Homo sapiens: one gene and its partners. The protein of the gene in region 1 purifies or fractionates together with the protein of each later gene. This does not show direct contact. Each region holds a gene or a part of one and is shown on either strand. Other genes may lie near its edges.

The links. The genes of interacting proteins can lie anywhere in the genome.
Region 2: the proteins of ISX (region 1) and NHLRC2 purify together in Homo sapiens (co-immunoprecipitation; one large-scale study listed by IntAct). This does not show direct contact.
Region 3: the proteins of ISX (region 1) and TLE4 purify together in Homo sapiens (affinity purification with mass spectrometry; one large-scale study listed by BioGRID and IntAct). This does not show direct contact.
Region 4: the proteins of ISX (region 1) and PKLR purify together in Homo sapiens (affinity purification with mass spectrometry; one large-scale study listed by BioGRID and IntAct). This does not show direct contact.

The regions. Positions count from the first base shown.
Region 1 is NC_000022.11:35,075,213-35,080,467, reverse strand, and holds part of ISX (intestine-specific homeobox), read right to left. Parts: intron 4,672-5,255; exon of another isoform or gene 4,497-4,671; intron 1-4,496. UniProt on the Homo sapiens protein: Transcription factor that regulates gene expression in intestine. May participate in vitamin A metabolism most likely by regulating BCO1 expression in the intestine.
Region 2 is NC_000010.11:113,899,444-113,903,160, forward strand, and holds part of NHLRC2 (NHL repeat-containing protein 2), read left to right. Parts: intron 1-2,222; coding exon 2,223-2,454; intron 2,455-3,027; coding exon 3,028-3,150; intron 3,151-3,717. UniProt on the Homo sapiens protein: Required for normal embryonic development.
Region 3 is NC_000009.12:79,718,248-79,721,964, reverse strand, and holds part of TLE4 (transducin-like enhancer protein 4), read right to left. Parts: intron 3,244-3,717; coding exon 2,994-3,243; intron 2,393-2,993; coding exon of another isoform or gene 2,327-2,392; exon of another isoform or gene 2,241-2,326; intron 1,920-2,240; coding exon 1,672-1,919; intron 225-1,671; coding exon 77-224; intron 1-76. UniProt on the Homo sapiens protein: Transcriptional corepressor that binds to a number of transcription factors. Inhibits the transcriptional activation mediated by PAX5, and by CTNNB1 and TCF family members in Wnt signaling.
Region 4 is NC_000001.11:155,294,939-155,298,655, reverse strand, and holds part of PKLR (pyruvate kinase PKLR), read left to right. Parts: intron 1-2,899; coding exon 2,900-2,991; intron 2,992-3,087; coding exon 3,088-3,219; intron 3,220-3,353; coding exon 3,354-3,540; intron 3,541-3,717. UniProt on the Homo sapiens protein: Pyruvate kinase that catalyzes the conversion of phosphoenolpyruvate to pyruvate with the synthesis of ATP, and which plays a key role in glycolysis.

The DNA.
Region 1 (5,255 bases):
TGAGCAAAAGATGTGTGTGTGTGTGTGTGTTCATGTGTTTGTATTATGGGGAAATCAGGTGTTCATCTTGGACATGTTAAATGTGTGATGCCTATTGGCTAGCTAAAGGAAGCTATGGAATAGGAAGATGCATTGATAAGTTTGGAGCTCAAAGGGGAACTGAGGACTGAGGTTCAAATTAAGGACCTATCAGCATCTATTTAGCCTTTGTAGTCATGGGAATGGGTATCACATAGGCAGAAAGTGTAGGTGGGGAAGAGGACAGGACCCAGGAGCAAGTTTGCGGTGCCTTCACCATGTAGAGGTTCAGCAGTAGGGAAGGCAACAAAGAGACCGAGAAGGGGAGGCCTCTGAAGGAGGAGGAAAGTGAGGACTGAAAGAAGGCACAGTCAGCTGGGTCCATGCTGCAGAGAGACCAATTATGATAAGGACAGAAAAGTGGTCCTTGAACCTGGCCACACAATGGAGAGTAAGGAAGATTGCCCCATTGGCAGAATGGGAGACTCAACCAGCATTGCCTGTAGCTCCTGGTTGGAGCCAGGTAACAGAGGACATTGGAGGAAGGACCAAACCCGGTGGCAGTGGGTTTGTTTACCTGACCATGGACTTCTGAGGACAGAATTAAAATCCTTGTCTTAATTGGACTGCAGATTGTCCCTGTGTTGTGATTTTAGGGATTGTAGAAAAGGCACAAACCCTCTCCCCAGATCACCTTCACTTTTGGGGCCCAGTGGAATTCCTACCATTCTAGCTAACACCTTGCCTCTCCTGATTTTTTCCACATTCCTTGTAAGAAAAACCGCTCTTGGGAAATAATTAAGAACCGAGGTACTTCTTGTCCCAGGGTCACTTACACTCATGCTCAGAGAACTCTAAGCCTCCCAGGGAAGGGAGCCTCGTATGTCTGCTGTCATCCATCTCTAGGCTGTGAGCCCCTGGAGGGTGGGGACTGTATCTGAGTAGGGACTGTAACTGACTGTATCTGAGACCAGCTGAGGAACTGGCTCCCCGAGAGAGCTTAACAAATATATGTCTTAAATGGATAAAAGTAGAATTCAGGCTCTGCTCTCAATCCTGTTGGACAGAAAAGACTTCCACAGGATTCGTCTAAAACTTTGTACAATGTCAGATGTCACACATCAGAAAGGATGACTGACGTGAGCTGAAGCTGCTACAAAGGAGGGGTGGGAGTCTGAGCTCCAGCTGAGGTCTTCTGACTCCCACTCAGCCCACTTTCTTTTTACCCCAAATAAGAGAGGTAAAGCCATCACATACTAAGAATTGGAGTAGACACTCAGTGAAAAATAGATTTCACTTCTGAGGGTTTAACACTTGAAGAAATCAACTAACTTGTTTTCTTTCTTGGTGCTTATGATCGATCCTGCTGTCATTGGATAGTAGAAAATCCAGTGAGCTGGACATCAGAAAATCCAAGCTGTGTTCCTGGTTCCACTATGCAACTTGTGCCACATTCTGGATTCATTATCTGGGCCTCAGTCTCCCCATCAGTAGAATGGAGGGAGAGAGAGGCATTGAATGATCAGGTCACTAAGGCAAAATCCACCCTGACATTTGTAATCCTCCGTCTCTGGGATGGAGGATGAATGGCTCAAAAGCACTCACCGCAGGCTTGCCTGCAGAACGCGTTTACTTGGTGAAAGGGACAGGGCTAGTGAGATTTCTCTCTGGGAAGCCACCAGGCCCGGTTGCCTCAGTTGTAGAAATGGGATTTCAAGTTTGCTTTTGCTTTCACTCCCTTCTACTAGCCCTCATTTTTGTTGTTAATCCATTTTTATCCTTTCAAAGTACTTTCGCTCACTATTGTGGATTTTTGGAAGCTTCTTGGGAGTCGCAGGCAGTGAGGCTTTGAACATTACTCCCCACTAGAGTGAGTTATTGGCCTGTGACCCACCTCTGTAGGAGAGCCTCATCTCTGCCTCTCCTTCTCTACCCCCTTCCCTCCCTAAGTCCACACTGCCTTTTTAACTTCATGGGTTTTTAAAAAAAGATATTTATTCTATGTTTAGAGCTGGTGTTGTGTTTAAGGGATATAGCTGAAGTCAGTCAGAATTGATGTAGAGAGAAATGGCAGGTGTTAATTCATTCCAAGAGCTCAGTGAATGTCATCTCTGTAACCAGCACCTAATAGGCACTGAGGGCCAGTCTGCAGGAGTACAAAATGAACAAGCCATGCTTGATAGTATTGGATTTACTCCTTCATTCATTCAGTCAGTCAGCATATTAGATGATAGTAAATGATATAGTGCAGTTCTGTAGGAAGCTGCAAAAAAAAAAAAAATTACAAAAGGGAAGATTCCAGGTTGACCTGGAAAACTGAGGTGTCAAGGACAGCAGGGAGTTGAGGTCTTCATGGGACTATAGAACTGTGGGAGAGAATGTGGGGTGTGGAACCAGAATACAGGAAATGAAATAATATGGAGAACAGAGGAGTAGAAACAGAAGACGGGTCATAACGAAAATAAGCCGTCTCCTCCATTTACCCCAGAAGGAAACTCAGGTGAACAAGGATTTATGACTAAGAATAGAATCTATAATAAAATAAATATTTCAAAGCTTCCACTTGTGTAACCAAAGGAGCAGCTTTTAAGACATGATGGCTTTTTCCTGTTCCCAAGAGTACTGGAAGAAGGTAATTTAGAGGTGGGGTGAAGAAGGAAAGGATCTAAACTCTGCTCTGCAAAACAACCTGACTGCTGACTTCATGGGGGAGGGGCTGCCTGCCAAGTCATAGCCTGGTGAGAAAAATATGTTTTCTCATTAGCTTTGAACTACACATTCTCAGGATAAATGTTTGTCCTTGAGAGGTGATGATGATGATGATGATGATGATGATGATGTTGTGCTTGTGTCTCACAGTTTTAGTGGCCTCTCTTGGAATAAGGAGGGGTGCCTAAAATTCATACTGGTGAGGAATTATGACTGGAAAGACCCAATCAGAAGGCCAAGAGCAGTGTTGGGAGAGACAGATAGAATTCAGCCTGGAGTCATGGAAATGAGGTTAGAGCAGTGTCCAAGGGGGCAGCTCAGGAATGATGAAGGTCAGCACTTCAACTTTCCTACAGGAAAAGAGGAGGCTGTGAGGGGTTGCCAGGAAAGCTGATGCTTGGGTTACAGACCACAGAGAGTTACAAATAAGGGAACAAGGTGGGAGAAGGCAGAAAAGCATAATATGGAACAGAGAAGAAGGTAGAATGCAGTTCAGCATGTAGAATTTTGGAAACTCGTTATTAGACAAGAGGCTGGAAAATACAAGCTCATTGATGGCCCTGGCCCATGCATAGGATAGGATTCTCAATCACCAGGAGAAACCAGGGTGTTCTGGGTCCCTGCTAAGAGGGGACACTTCTGAGGCAGCATGGATCATCCTGGAAGGAGAACTGGATCAGGAGTGAGAAAACCCTTGGGTTCCCATCCAGCCCAGCATCTCCCTACCAGGTTCTGGGCAGAGAAGCCGAGAAGCAGGTGGTCAAAGCCCAGCCTACCTAGGGAGTGGGCATGTGGGGACAACAGTGGAGGGGGATGGAGGCAGCAGGGAACTGCCACCCTTTTCAAGTTGCTCCTCTCCCCGTTGTTAATGGTGCAAGCTGTGACTCACACTTTAATAGGTCTTCAAAGAGAATGAATCAGCAGAACTTAATTAAACCTGAGCCATTTAGCACATCGATCATAAGAAATACACAATTTACACAGGTGATTAGGCCACCTAATTATAAACTGATGTTTCTCCTCGCTCAGCACCCTCCCCTGATTGCTTCTTCTCTGGGGTCTGCTAATTGGTCCTGGTTGAGCAGCTAAAGGCCCGGGGGACTTTGCCGCTGGGCAGTCTCTGGAAATGGGCCTCATCCTCGTCTTCTGAAAACAGTGGGTTCACCATGGAGGACACCCAGGGCCCCCTTTGCAGCCCTCCTGTAGGCTGGGGACACCTCCTGACACACGAAGGTGGGGTGCGGGGCAGGAGTCTCCCCATGGCCCACCTGCGCTGGCCTCATTTCGCTAGTCAGGCCACAGACTTTCTTTGGCTCCCTGTGCCCACAGGGAACAAGGCAAGCTCCTTAGCATGGCGTTCAAGGCCTTTCCCATTCCATCTTTCTAGCATCATCTGCTTTCCCTCAGTTGTCATTTCCATAATTTTAGTCCCACCTGACCATTTCCAGATTCCCCAAATCGGCTATGCACTTTTATTTTCCAGGTCCTTGTTCTGCGCTTCCTGAGTCTGGAATTCCTTGTCCTCCTCCTTTGCCTGGTGAACTCCTACTCATCCGTCAAAGCTCAAATCAATCAAATATTTCTTTATGAGGTCTGTTGTGAATCTCCTGGTTGAAACACAATAGGTATTTTTTTTTTTTTAATTTAAGAGTGCGAAATTTCAGCTTACAACAAACTGGCTTCCATATTTGTAAAAAAAAATTTTCTATGAGTCTCTATGAGTCAATCAATCAAAATATCTGTAGTGATTATTACTGGATGGTGAGATGGTAGAATTATAGTCACATTTCTTTTACCTTTTTATCTGTATTTTCTATTTTTCTGTAATACACAGGAACTTCTTGTGTAAATAAATAATGAAATAAAACAGCAAAGTGGAAAGAGATGAGAATAAAGAAATCACTGGAACAATTAGGAGGAGACCCTTGAGAAACTCACCAGAAAGTGAGTGCCACTCCCCGGGGTGACTGGCTTAGCACTCTCTAGGCAGTGTGAAGCTTGCATCTTCCATACCTGTGGTCTCACTTTCATAATATTTTGTATGTATGAATTTTAGCATGTGTACTCCCCCCACCACACACCCACACATACCCACACTCACCCATACTTTTTACTTACGTATTTAAAAAAATTTTTGTTTCTTCCTTTTTTTATTTTAAAGCAACTGTACCCTTTGTTTAAAGGAAATCATAAGGAAACCCTACAAAACAAACAGCAGTAGAGCTCCTTTATTGAAGTGTGTGTGGGGCCCACTCCATCTTCCCTTCATCCAAGGCAGCTCTGGTCATGCATCTCAATGAAAGCCTGAAGTTCCCAAAACATTTTAAAATCTAAGGCTTAAAAAATGCTGATGTGCATATATAAAGGCCAAAGTTCTTGGCTTGACACACCTGACCTTCCGTCTACCTTACCTCTTTCATCTCTTGTGACTATGCTCCATGAATTTTAGACTCCAGCCACTCAATTTTGTTGTTTCTCAAAGGATTATTCCTTTTTATACCTCTTGGGTGCTTCACAGGCTTTCCTTT
Region 2 (3,717 bases), on another chromosome or scaffold:
TATGTAATGTTTTAAGACATTTAATCGTTTAGCAAATATTTATGCTAGGCAATAGGGATGAAATATGCTCACTATGTTAAGGATACAATGAAAAGATGTGGTTGTCATCAGTGAACTTACAGAGGAAGAATCAGATCAGCAAACAATTAAAAGTTAGTGTGTGCAAAAGGAATCGCTGCAAATTGAAATTGTTCGGCTGGGTGCGGTGGGTCACGCCTGTAATCCCAGCACTTTGGGGGGCCGAGGCAGGCAGATCACAAGGTCAGTAGTTCGAGACCAGAATGACAATATGGTGAAACCCCGTCTCTACTAAAAATAGAAAAAGTTAGCTGGGCGTGGTGGCGCTTGCCTGTAATCCCAGCTACTCAGGAGGCTGTGGCAGGAGAATCGCTTGAACCCAGGAGGCGGAAGGTTGCAGTGAGCTGAGATTGTGCCACTGCACTCCAGCCAGGACGACAGAGTGAGACTCCGTTTAAAAAAAAAAAAATTGAAATTGTTCCTTATATAAGTAAGAGGAAGACGCAACATCAGTAAGATTTGAGTTGTCAAGGAGGGCTTCTTGGAAGAGGCAACTAAACAGTGACCTGATAAGAGTATAGGAGTTAGGGAGAGTGGAAAGTTTTCCAGGCAAGAATTGGCACTAGTGATGTCAGTAGAAGCCAGATCACACTGTGCCTTGTGAGTACTTTTAGGGATCTGAATATTCTACAAGCCTTTTTAGAAAGGTTTAAGCTGGGAAGTGACATGATTAGATTTGTGTTTTTGAAAGAACATTGGCAGCACTCAGAGTGGAACAAGACTAGAGACAGAGATAAGAGATACCACTGAGGAGCCTATTGCTGTTATCCAGGCAAGAGATGATAGTAGCCTGAACAGTGAGATTACCAATAAGATTTTACATGAGGCATAATTATAAACAGCAGAGAAGTAACAGAAGTTGCCAGAATATGCTGTTCTGGGTGATGGCTGTTTTAGGCATAGATGATTCAGAGCTGCCTGAATTTCCTCATAAGTAGAGTTGTCACTCTCCTTCTTAATAGGAAATTGGCACTAGGACCACACTGACCTGTGTTTTAATTTTAAGGATGTATTATCTTTATTACCGATCTTCAGGTAGTAATGACCCTTAGCATTTTAAAAGTTATTGTTTCTCCCTACTCTTTTCTTTATTTAATTAAGGAAACTCCTTTTTAAAGTATTAAGACTCCTTGTAGACTCCTTTCAATTAATTTGTTCAGCATATTAGTTATTACATATATTGTACTTGCTATGTTTATATGTTTCTTGAATAAGTGGCCATATTTTATGCGTGCTAAATCCCTTTGCCTCTGTCCCCTGCTCCCTACCTAACTTATTATGGGAACATATTAGCCAGTAAGTGATGGTGAGTTCAGACTTTTGCATGTTGTACCATATTCAGAAATGATTTACACAGACTCTCATTTTGTGTCCCGAGTCAGCTGCTTCCCTTCCCTCAACACAACACACTACCATGTCTTTTTTACAGTCTCTCTGGAATAAACTTAGAAACCAGGATCTAAAGCTTTCTCTGCATTACAAAAGGAATCATTGCAATAGTTCCTTAAATAGAAATTTCCCTAATGTATATAAGAAATTGATTTGTACAATCGATATAATTGTACATAATTATCCCATGTAATTTTAAGATAATTATGTACAATTATATTATTTTTCATATAATAGTAATGTCTGACCTGGCCAACTTTCAAAAACTATTCTTTAATTCCTTTTGCTGGTCTCTGTTTATATATAAGAACACAAAACATTTTTAATGAAAATTGAAGCTTTAAACTATCAAGAGCTAGATGATCTTTTTAGTTCCCTTTCCGAACCTCATATTGCATGAAACTAAGAAGTTAAGAATTTAAGGTAGTAAAAACAACCTATCTCATCAATAATCTGATCATTATTTTTATCTTATAATTCTATCAGGGATTTGTCGTTTAACATTTGAAAGTGATTTCAGTTTTGTGTGTATCAAAGTAAAGTAAGAAGTTCCCTACACAGTGGGTAAATAAGTTAATGGTTGGAAAAATGATAATGAAAGCTGACTTGAACAATTTAACTAGACCAAGATCACTAGTTTGTTTTTTTAGGAGGCTTATCACTTTTGATTTGATTATTCACATTCATTTATTTAAGAACTAAATTGCACACAATATACCACATGTTGACTCCACCTATGAACTTGTCTTTTTCAGTGAGTTAACAAAAGGAACCTGCCTTAGGTTTGCTGGAAGTGGAAATGAAGAGAATCGAAACAATGCCTATCCTCACAAGGCAGGTTTTGCCCAACCTTCAGGCCTTTCCTTGGCCTCTGAAGATCCCTGGAGCTGCTTGTTTGTAGCAGATAGTGAGAGCAGTACAGTGAGAACCGTTTCACTGAAAGATGGAGCAGTGAAGCACCTCGTAGGAGGAGAAAGAGACCCCATGGTAATGACAGTCACTCTTGCACAGTGCGCTCGGACACTGAGCAAGCTGTCAATTTTGTGAATTATGGAAAGTTAATAAGATTTAAGAGAGACCATCCTTGGCCTATCTGCGAATCAAAATGAAAGTCAGACCAAAGGAAATGTGAATGTAAAGCAACGTGAGGAACACACCATCTAAGAAAAGTGAACTGACTCTACTTTATTATGTATAAATGTTAAGGTTTCAGGGAGAAAGAAAGGATGAAGCATTGATTATTGGAGAAAAGAAAAAAATGTAAATTAGATATTGGGCAGTGGGGTGGAAAGAGCACCAGACTAGTGGACTTGACCTATTCCTGACCAGATGTAGTATTGTGAGTAAAACTACTAAGCACCACCAATTAATACAGGTTCAAAATACTGTCATTTTTTTTCTAATCTGAATGAAGTATCCAACCCTATTTATATGAAAATCAGCATTTTCCCTTTTAACTTAAATACCATTTGTAACTGTTTGAATTTTCCTTCATATTCTAACAAAACACTGTAAAAATTATAATAACTGCTGTTTCTTTTCTTTTAAAAAAAATTAAAGAATTTATTTGCTTTTGGTGATGTTGATGGAGTAGGAATCAATGCAAAGCTTCAACACCCCCTTGGAGTAACATGGGACAAAAAAAGGAATTTACTTTATGTTGCAGACTCCTACAATCACAAGGTGAGTCGTGACAGAATTATATAATATCTTGCTTTTTGTGTGTGGCATTTAAAATGCTGAAAGATCTGTGAGCCTCCTACAACTGCCACTCTAAAATATAGAAAGGAGTAACAGTCTTTGACAACTATAACCCAGCCTGTTCTGCTCTTTTCTTGGTCCTTTCTTTGCCAAGAGGTTATGATGGTATTCTGAACTAGGGAAAGCACAGAACCAGTTCCAATGGCAATAGCCAACAGTTGTGAATTGCAACCCATCAAAGCTGCTTAGTAACATATTCAGTATATCAAGAGAAGGCAAGTAGCAGGGAAATTTATATGTCATCTAACAAATGAACGTTTTTGAGCTGTTGCATAGTTACAGTGCTTGTTAGTAAATAATTTTGTTTTCAGCATTTCCATTTTTGTCTATTAAATTGTCTTAAGTTTTATTGCATTTTTACTTTTTACAAAAATCAGTGGATAATAAATGTTCATGCAGTACTTCATGATGTGAGACCATAAATTTAATATAATTGAGACATAACTGTCAATCATTAAGTTTAACAAAGGTAGCAAATTCTCAGGCAAT
Region 3 (3,717 bases), on another chromosome or scaffold:
TCGATTCCCTGACCTGGTGATCCGCCCACCTCAGCCTAAAACCGTATCTTTAAAATGCCTCAGCCACGGATCATACCTGGGAGGTGAAGTCGTGCTGCTGCAGCTGCCGCCCCTCGCGCAGGTCCCAGGACCTGACCGTGTTGTCCAAACCACCTGTCCAGAGCTTGGTGCCATCATTAGAAATGTCAATACAGCTGGCTCCATCTGTGTGGCCCTGGAATTGCCTGAAAATGTCAAAATGGAGGGAAAGCCCTTGAAAAGTTAGCTTTTAGTTAAAATCAATTTAGAATTCCTTGATGATTCAATTTCAATGCAGGCCTTATTTGTAGATTTCATTTTGGTTTATTATGGTTTCTAATTATTCAAAGTAATAACAAAGCATATACAAAGAGATGCCACATGTCCTGTACTTTTTGCTTGGTTTTGAATACTTAGGAATTCCTCAAATTACTTTTTCATGAAAACATGACTGATATTACTAATGGGAAAAAAATCTCTGAAATTAACAAAAGAAAACACGCCTACACATATATGCACTAACTAAAGATATATTCTGAGACCTATTCTATTACTGTGGTATGAGGGAGAGAGAATTTAATTTTCCCTTTAAAGAAGGACTGGGGATGGCACAGGGAGCGACAGGACCAGTCCTGCCAGTGAGCAGCAATGTGTCTGTGGGTGGCTGTGCAAGACGGAAGGCGAGGCTCTCAAGTAAGGCACCTGGAAAGACACTCAGTGTGAACTACTGGCCCAGGAATCACTCATGGCAAAACGTACCAAGGTCACCAGGAGAAAACAGGGTTAGAAGCAGCTTCTCATAAGAGGCTGCCTGATAAGCAATGAAAGTGATGATTTGTTTTGGGATCTATAGGTTTCAGTACTTTGAAATAACAGATAGTAAAGCCTTCTTCTTTTACACACCTGACTTGTAGCTACCTCTGGTTACAACCTTTTCATACCTGTAGCTGATCATTCTACTTGCTTGCTAATCTCTTAGGGTATTGACACCTAGAAAATCATTTCAGAGCTTTTCCCATCTACCAACACCAATCTTTTATAATCTCATTTGTAAAGTTATATCTATCCAACCTCAAAGGTGGGACAACAGATAATCTAGACCATTTCAGAGTGAGTTGCACCCAATACAGTGCATAGGCCCATGGGAGTTGCTAAATATCTGCTGAAGGAATGAACCTGTTAGATGTGTATGGCACTCAAGACAGTACCATACACTGTGAATCTTCTCAGTGAGGCTCTATCAACAATAATCGTTTGTTAGCAAGCACAGATGGCAAATTACAGATGTCCATGGAGCTCATGGGGTCATGGAAACTTTATGTACATTAATTATGTCAAATTGACCTCATTTTATTAAAACAAATTGGCGATGCTTTAGTATAAGTCAAGGAAGGAAAAAAGACCTCATTTTATGAAGTTCAAGTACTACAGAAAACAAGATTTTCACACTGATAATTTATTTTTAACATCTTAAAATGGACCTGTTCTGAACAATTTTTAGTAAGATAATTATATCACTTTACACACACACACACACACACACACACACACACACACACACACACACACCCATACCTATATACACAGCACTTTGGCAAAATATGGTAAAATCGGCTCCTCCTCACAACCTGGTAACAGATCCTGCTAACCTACCTCACCAAGGTCTGGTTGTGCAGATCCCACACAGCGATGTTGCCGTCGCTGCAGCATGAGAAGCAGACCTTGGAATCGGGGCTGATGGCCAGGGCATAGCAGGCGGGGGCCGAGGATGTCAGCTCTGCCTTGATGCGTGGGGTTGGAGCCGCCAGGTCCCAAATGGACAAAGTACTGGCTTCCCCTCCAACAATTAGGGTGCGACCATCAGGGAGCAATCTGCAGGAACGGATGTAGTTATCCCTGTTCTGTAGAGACAAAAACCATCAAGAGATTACTCATGAGGAAAGGAAAACAGCATTAACATGAGAGCAGAAATCCATAAAAGTATTGTGTTCCCTCCTGGTTTAATGAGCCGTTTATACTTATGACAATGATAAAGTGGATTAATGCTAGAAAATTACATGAAATTAGGGAAGTACTTAAAGTTGATCTACAAAATGTAGTACTGAGATATTTAATCTTAATTAGCATCAAAATGCAAAGCTCTAGACCCACTCCCACCACCACCAAATTAACCAACTGCTTGCATCATTTGCACACACAGATACACACGTACACTAATGCAGGAGCTCTCACAGTCTTGGAGTATCCAAACTTGGAACCTTGGTAGACTCAGGCTCAGTTCTGCTGTTGAAAGGTCCTGCTACTGATGTCAAGAAAGTTTCAGGGGGTAGATCCCTGGCAGTCTGTTCCTTTTGCCTGGGCCTGCATTACGTGACTAAAGGGCATCATGCATTTGATGAAAGCTGCACCAGAGGCAAGACTTGATCATGGAGTGTTAAGTTACAGAAAAAAAAAGTTCCTCCTAGCTCATGAGGTTACGGGAATCTTATGTATATTTAATTATGTTCAACTGATGTAGCCTCATGCTATAGCAAAAATTCTACTAAACTGACATTTCCTAAGGAACTCAAGGGAAAAGGCCAATGAAGCAGCTGAGGGGCTATCTAGTATTTGCCACATGAGGCAGTAAGTTACTCTTTACATGTGACAGATGATATTTAGGTGCACACTCATAGTCACTGTATGGGCTCTTAGTTTGCTTAACCATCAGAGAGGAAAACAAGCGGTTTGCCTTTTCCCATGGGAGGCAGAGTTAATGAAATCAGTATGGTGCACATGCCACACATGAAGAACTAGATCACTGTGTGTCTAGGAAGCAAAAGACACACCTCCAAGTGAAAGATCGCAGTCCCCTGAAGAGCAACTATCCACCTGGGATCAATACTGTGTGGTGTTGCTCATACATACAGTTCTCTCATCAGCCCCTCCTGTTTTCTGAATGAAAGTCTAAGTCTTGTTCATCCATGTTCACTCACCAGACAGTCGAGCTGGGAGACAGGACTCTTATTGCCTGGGTGGCTGATGTCCCAGACCTTGACGCAGCCCTTCCCACCCGTGTACACGTGTCTCGTGGGGTTGCTGATGGTCACCGCGCACACCACCTCCCCGTGGTTGAGGGTGTTGATCTGGCGAGCATGCCGGGGGATTCCAGGTCCGATGAGGGCGTCGGGTGGAAAAGGGACAGGCTGCATCTGACCATCTGCGCTAACATGGAAGGAGTATGCTCTAAGGCAATGGAGAGGAAAAAAGAAAGAGGGGAATGTAAAAAAATGTCACTTAACTGTTCAGTGTAATGAGATGAGAAATAAAACACCTTCAGTGCCACTTGTGATTTACGAACAAATCGAATTTGTCCATACAGTGTAAAGAACATAATTTCCAGAATCATACAGCTAGGCTGCTACAGGGCCAGATCTCAGGCTGACTCTGTACAAGCTGCTGTGGGACATCAGTAGTTACTTAGAATCTCTAAACTAGAACAGCAGTTCTAGTCTCTAAAATGAAGAGAACACTACCTATACCTCACAGAATTAAATGAGATAACCACCGTCAAGTGCAGTAGCCACCTTTCAGGGATGCCCTATAAACCTGCATTGCCTTCTCCTTTGGATGAATCAGAGGCCTGTGATGAGACCTCGCCTATAGATCAATTCATTCCCGGCAAGGGACTTACTAAGGGAGATGAGTAGGCCAAAATCA
Region 4 (3,717 bases), on another chromosome or scaffold:
GTTTGTTTGTTTTTAAAAAAAGAAAAAAAAGCTGGGCGCGGTGGCTCACGCCTGTAATCCCAGCACTTTGGGAGGCCGAGGCGGGCGGATCACCTGAGGTCAGGAGTTCGAGACCAGCCTCAACATGGAGAAACCCCGTCTCTACTAAAAATACAAAAAATTATCCGGGCATGGTGGTGCATGCCTGTAATCCCAGCTACTCAGGAGGCTAAGGCAGGAGAATTGCTTGAACCTGGGAGGCGGAGGTTGCGGTGAGCCAAGATCGTGCCATTGCACCCCAGCCTGGGCAACAAGAGCGAAACTCCGTCTCAAAAAAAAAAAAGGCCAGGCGTGGTGTTTCATGCCTGTAATCCCAGCACTTTGGGAGGCCGAGGCAGACTGATCACGAGGTCAAGAGATCGATACCATCCTGGCCAACATGGTGAAACCCCGTCTCTAATAAAAATACAAAAATTAGCTGGGCGTGGTGGCACATGCCTGTAGTCCCAGCTACTCGGAAGGCTGAGGCAGGAGAATCACTTGAACTGGAAGGCAGGGAGCAGAGATCGCACCTCTGTCCTCCAGCCTGGTGACAGAGCGAGATTCCATCTAAAAAAAAAAGAAAAGAAAAGAAAGAAAAAGTGAAAGTTTTAAGTGCTATGGGGAAAGAAATCAAGTGTGATAAGGGCATCAGGAGTACGAGGGTGAAGACAGGTTGCAGCCCTAAATAGGGAGGTCAGTTATTATTGAGTAAATGAGACCAAAGGGAAGACTTGAAGGAGATGAGAGAATTAGCCATGCAGAGACCTGGGGGAAGAGAATTCCAGGAAGAAGGATCAGTCAGTGTCAAGGCCTAAGTCAAGAAGGTTAGAAGAGCTAGAAACCATCAAGGGGGAAGAGCGGCAGACATGAAGAGACTGTGTACGGACAGGAAGATCAGGTGCAGCTTTGTAGGCCATTTTTAGAATTTGAGTTGCGTTTTCCTCCGAGTGAAATGAGAAACTGCTGCAGGGTTTTGAGCAGGGGAATGACAAGCTCTTATTTATGTTTTAATAGAGCCTCCCCTCCCCTGCTGCTGCACTGAAAATAGATGGGGGGTGGGGGGAAGGGTGCCCCTGCAGTATTTCTGGCTCAGACCAGTTGGCGGCAGTGAGGTGGTGAGAAGTGGTCAGATTCTGAATGTATTTTGCAGGTAGAGCTGACAGGATTTGCTAATTGATCGGATATGGGGTATGGAGTGTGGGCGAGAAAGAAAGGAGTCAAAGGTGACAGGTGACTCTGAGGTTTTTGCCATAAGGAACTGGAACGATGCATTAGCCACTGAGCAGGAAAGACTGTGGTGGAAGGGGTTGGGGGGAGAGCAGAAGTTTGCTTGGGACATGTTGAGTCTGAGATGCTTATTAGCCATCCAAATGTGATAGAGGGGGCAGTCAGGTACACAACTCTGGGTTTGGGAGAAAGGTCTGGATTGGAGAGACATTTGGGAGTTGGCTACATATAGATGGTATCTCAAGCCATGAGACTAGTTGAGACCACCAAAGGAGTGTAGGTGAAATGACGGAGAAGAGAACAGGGTATCTAACGTTAAGGGGAGGAACAAGGAAAGGAGACTGGGAAAGAGCAGCTAGTGAGGTAGGAGTCAACCAAGAGAGGGTGCAGCCCTGGAGGTCAGGTGAAGACAGTGTGTCAAAGAAGGATGTATGTTCAGGCTGCTGATGGGCCAATAGAGGAGGACTGAGCATTGAGCATTACATGGAGCAAAAACACAGAGGTTCTTGGTGACCTTGACAAGAACAGATGCAGTGGAGAGATGGAGGCCAACGCCTGAGTGGGGTGGGTTCAAGGGAGAATGGGGGAGGGGAACTAGAGGTAGCAAGTACAGATAACTCTTGCGATGAGTTTTGCTGCAAGTGAGAGCAAATACTGGGACTGAGGGGAAACCAGGAGATTAAGAGAATTTTTTTTTAATGATGAAAGAAATAACAGTAGGTTTACCTGCGGATGGGGATGATCCAGTAAAAAAGGAAAACATGGCTGGGCACGGTGACTCACACCTGTAATCCCAGCATTTTGGGAGGGCGAGGTGGATGGATCACCTGAGGTCAAGAGTTCAAGACCAACCTGGCCAGCATGGTGAAACCCCTTCTCTACTAAAAATACAAAAAAATTAGCCAGGCGTGGTGGTGCACACCTGTAATCCCAGCTACTCAGGAGGCTGAAGCAGGATAATCACTTGAACTGGGGAGGCAGAGGTTGCAGTGAGCTGAGATGGTGCCACTGCACTCCAGCCTGGGCGACAAGAGTGAAACTCCCCCCGTCTCAAAAAAAAAGAAAGAAAAAGAAAAGGAAAACATGGGTGTCACAGAGGACCACAGAATGGCTTAATTTATGTCCTTGAGCAGGTGAGAAGGAGGAGACCTAGTGCACAAGTGGAAAGACAGATAGGGACCGAAGAATGAGCCAACCTGCTCTCGGCTAGCAGCTGCCCCATAGCAGTGCAGGCATGGGATAGAACTCAGCTCTCCTCAGTCCATGAGGCCTCCTAGCTCTAAAAGCCCGCACCCAAACGCCCTCACCTGGCTCCCAGCCCCTGCCCTACACCCCATACCCTGGGGTAGCCGGGCAAGCAGCACTTACATACCCATGCCCATACAGTGCCCATACATGCCCATACAGTGACCTCAGGCCTGGCGGAGGGCACTCCCCTCCGATTTCCACACTGCTGCCTCCCCAAGGGGATGGATGTTGGCTTGAGAGGGAAGGGGAGTCTGTGATCTGTGGGCAGGGGTTGCATCAGGGAATAAAGATCAGGTAACAGGACGCCTGTGGCGTGAGGCGTTCTGAGAATGGTAATGGGTTGGGTTTGGTTGCCTCTCATGTTCTGGGGGAACGTTGTCTGAACGTGAATCTCTGGTTCTAGGGCCAGCATCTCGCTCCGTGGAGCGCCTCAAGGAGATGATCAAGGCCGGGATGAACATTGCGCGACTCAACTTCTCCCACGGCTCCCACGAGGTGCGGGACGGGCCGCCGGGCAGTGGGTGGGGCAGGAGGATGCCTCGAGGTCCTGGCCACCTTCCCCTGAAACCCTCGCTCCGCTCCCTCCCCCAGTACCATGCTGAGTCCATCGCCAACGTCCGGGAGGCGGTGGAGAGCTTTGCAGGTTCCCCACTCAGCTACCGGCCCGTGGCCATCGCCCTGGACACCAAGGGACCGGAGATCCGCACTGGGATCCTGCAGGGGGTGAGCAGTGGGGCTGGGACTCGCTGGGCCAGGGCCGGAAAGGCGGCGCCTGTAGGGTTGGGCCCAGGCGTGGGCAGGGGCGGGTCCCGGACTCCGGGGCTCAGAACTCACATCTCCTCTGGCTCCCTCCTTAGGGTCCAGAGTCGGAAGTGGAGCTGGTGAAGGGCTCCCAGGTGCTGGTGACTGTGGACCCCGCGTTCCGGACGCGGGGGAACGCGAACACCGTGTGGGTGGACTACCCCAATATTGTCCGGGTCGTGCCGGTGGGGGGCCGCATCTACATTGACGACGGGCTCATCTCCCTAGTGGTCCAGAAAATCGGTGCGGACGCGCCTCCCGCCCTGACCACATCCGTGCGCTGGGCACATTCCCTTCTCCTTGGCTCCCCCATCAGCCCTCAGACCGATCACACCTTCCCCTGGCCACGCGTTTTTGCCAGCCCGTCCCAGGAGTCCCCAGCGTGTAGACTCTGCGCTCACCCTGGGTTTGGGCTGGACT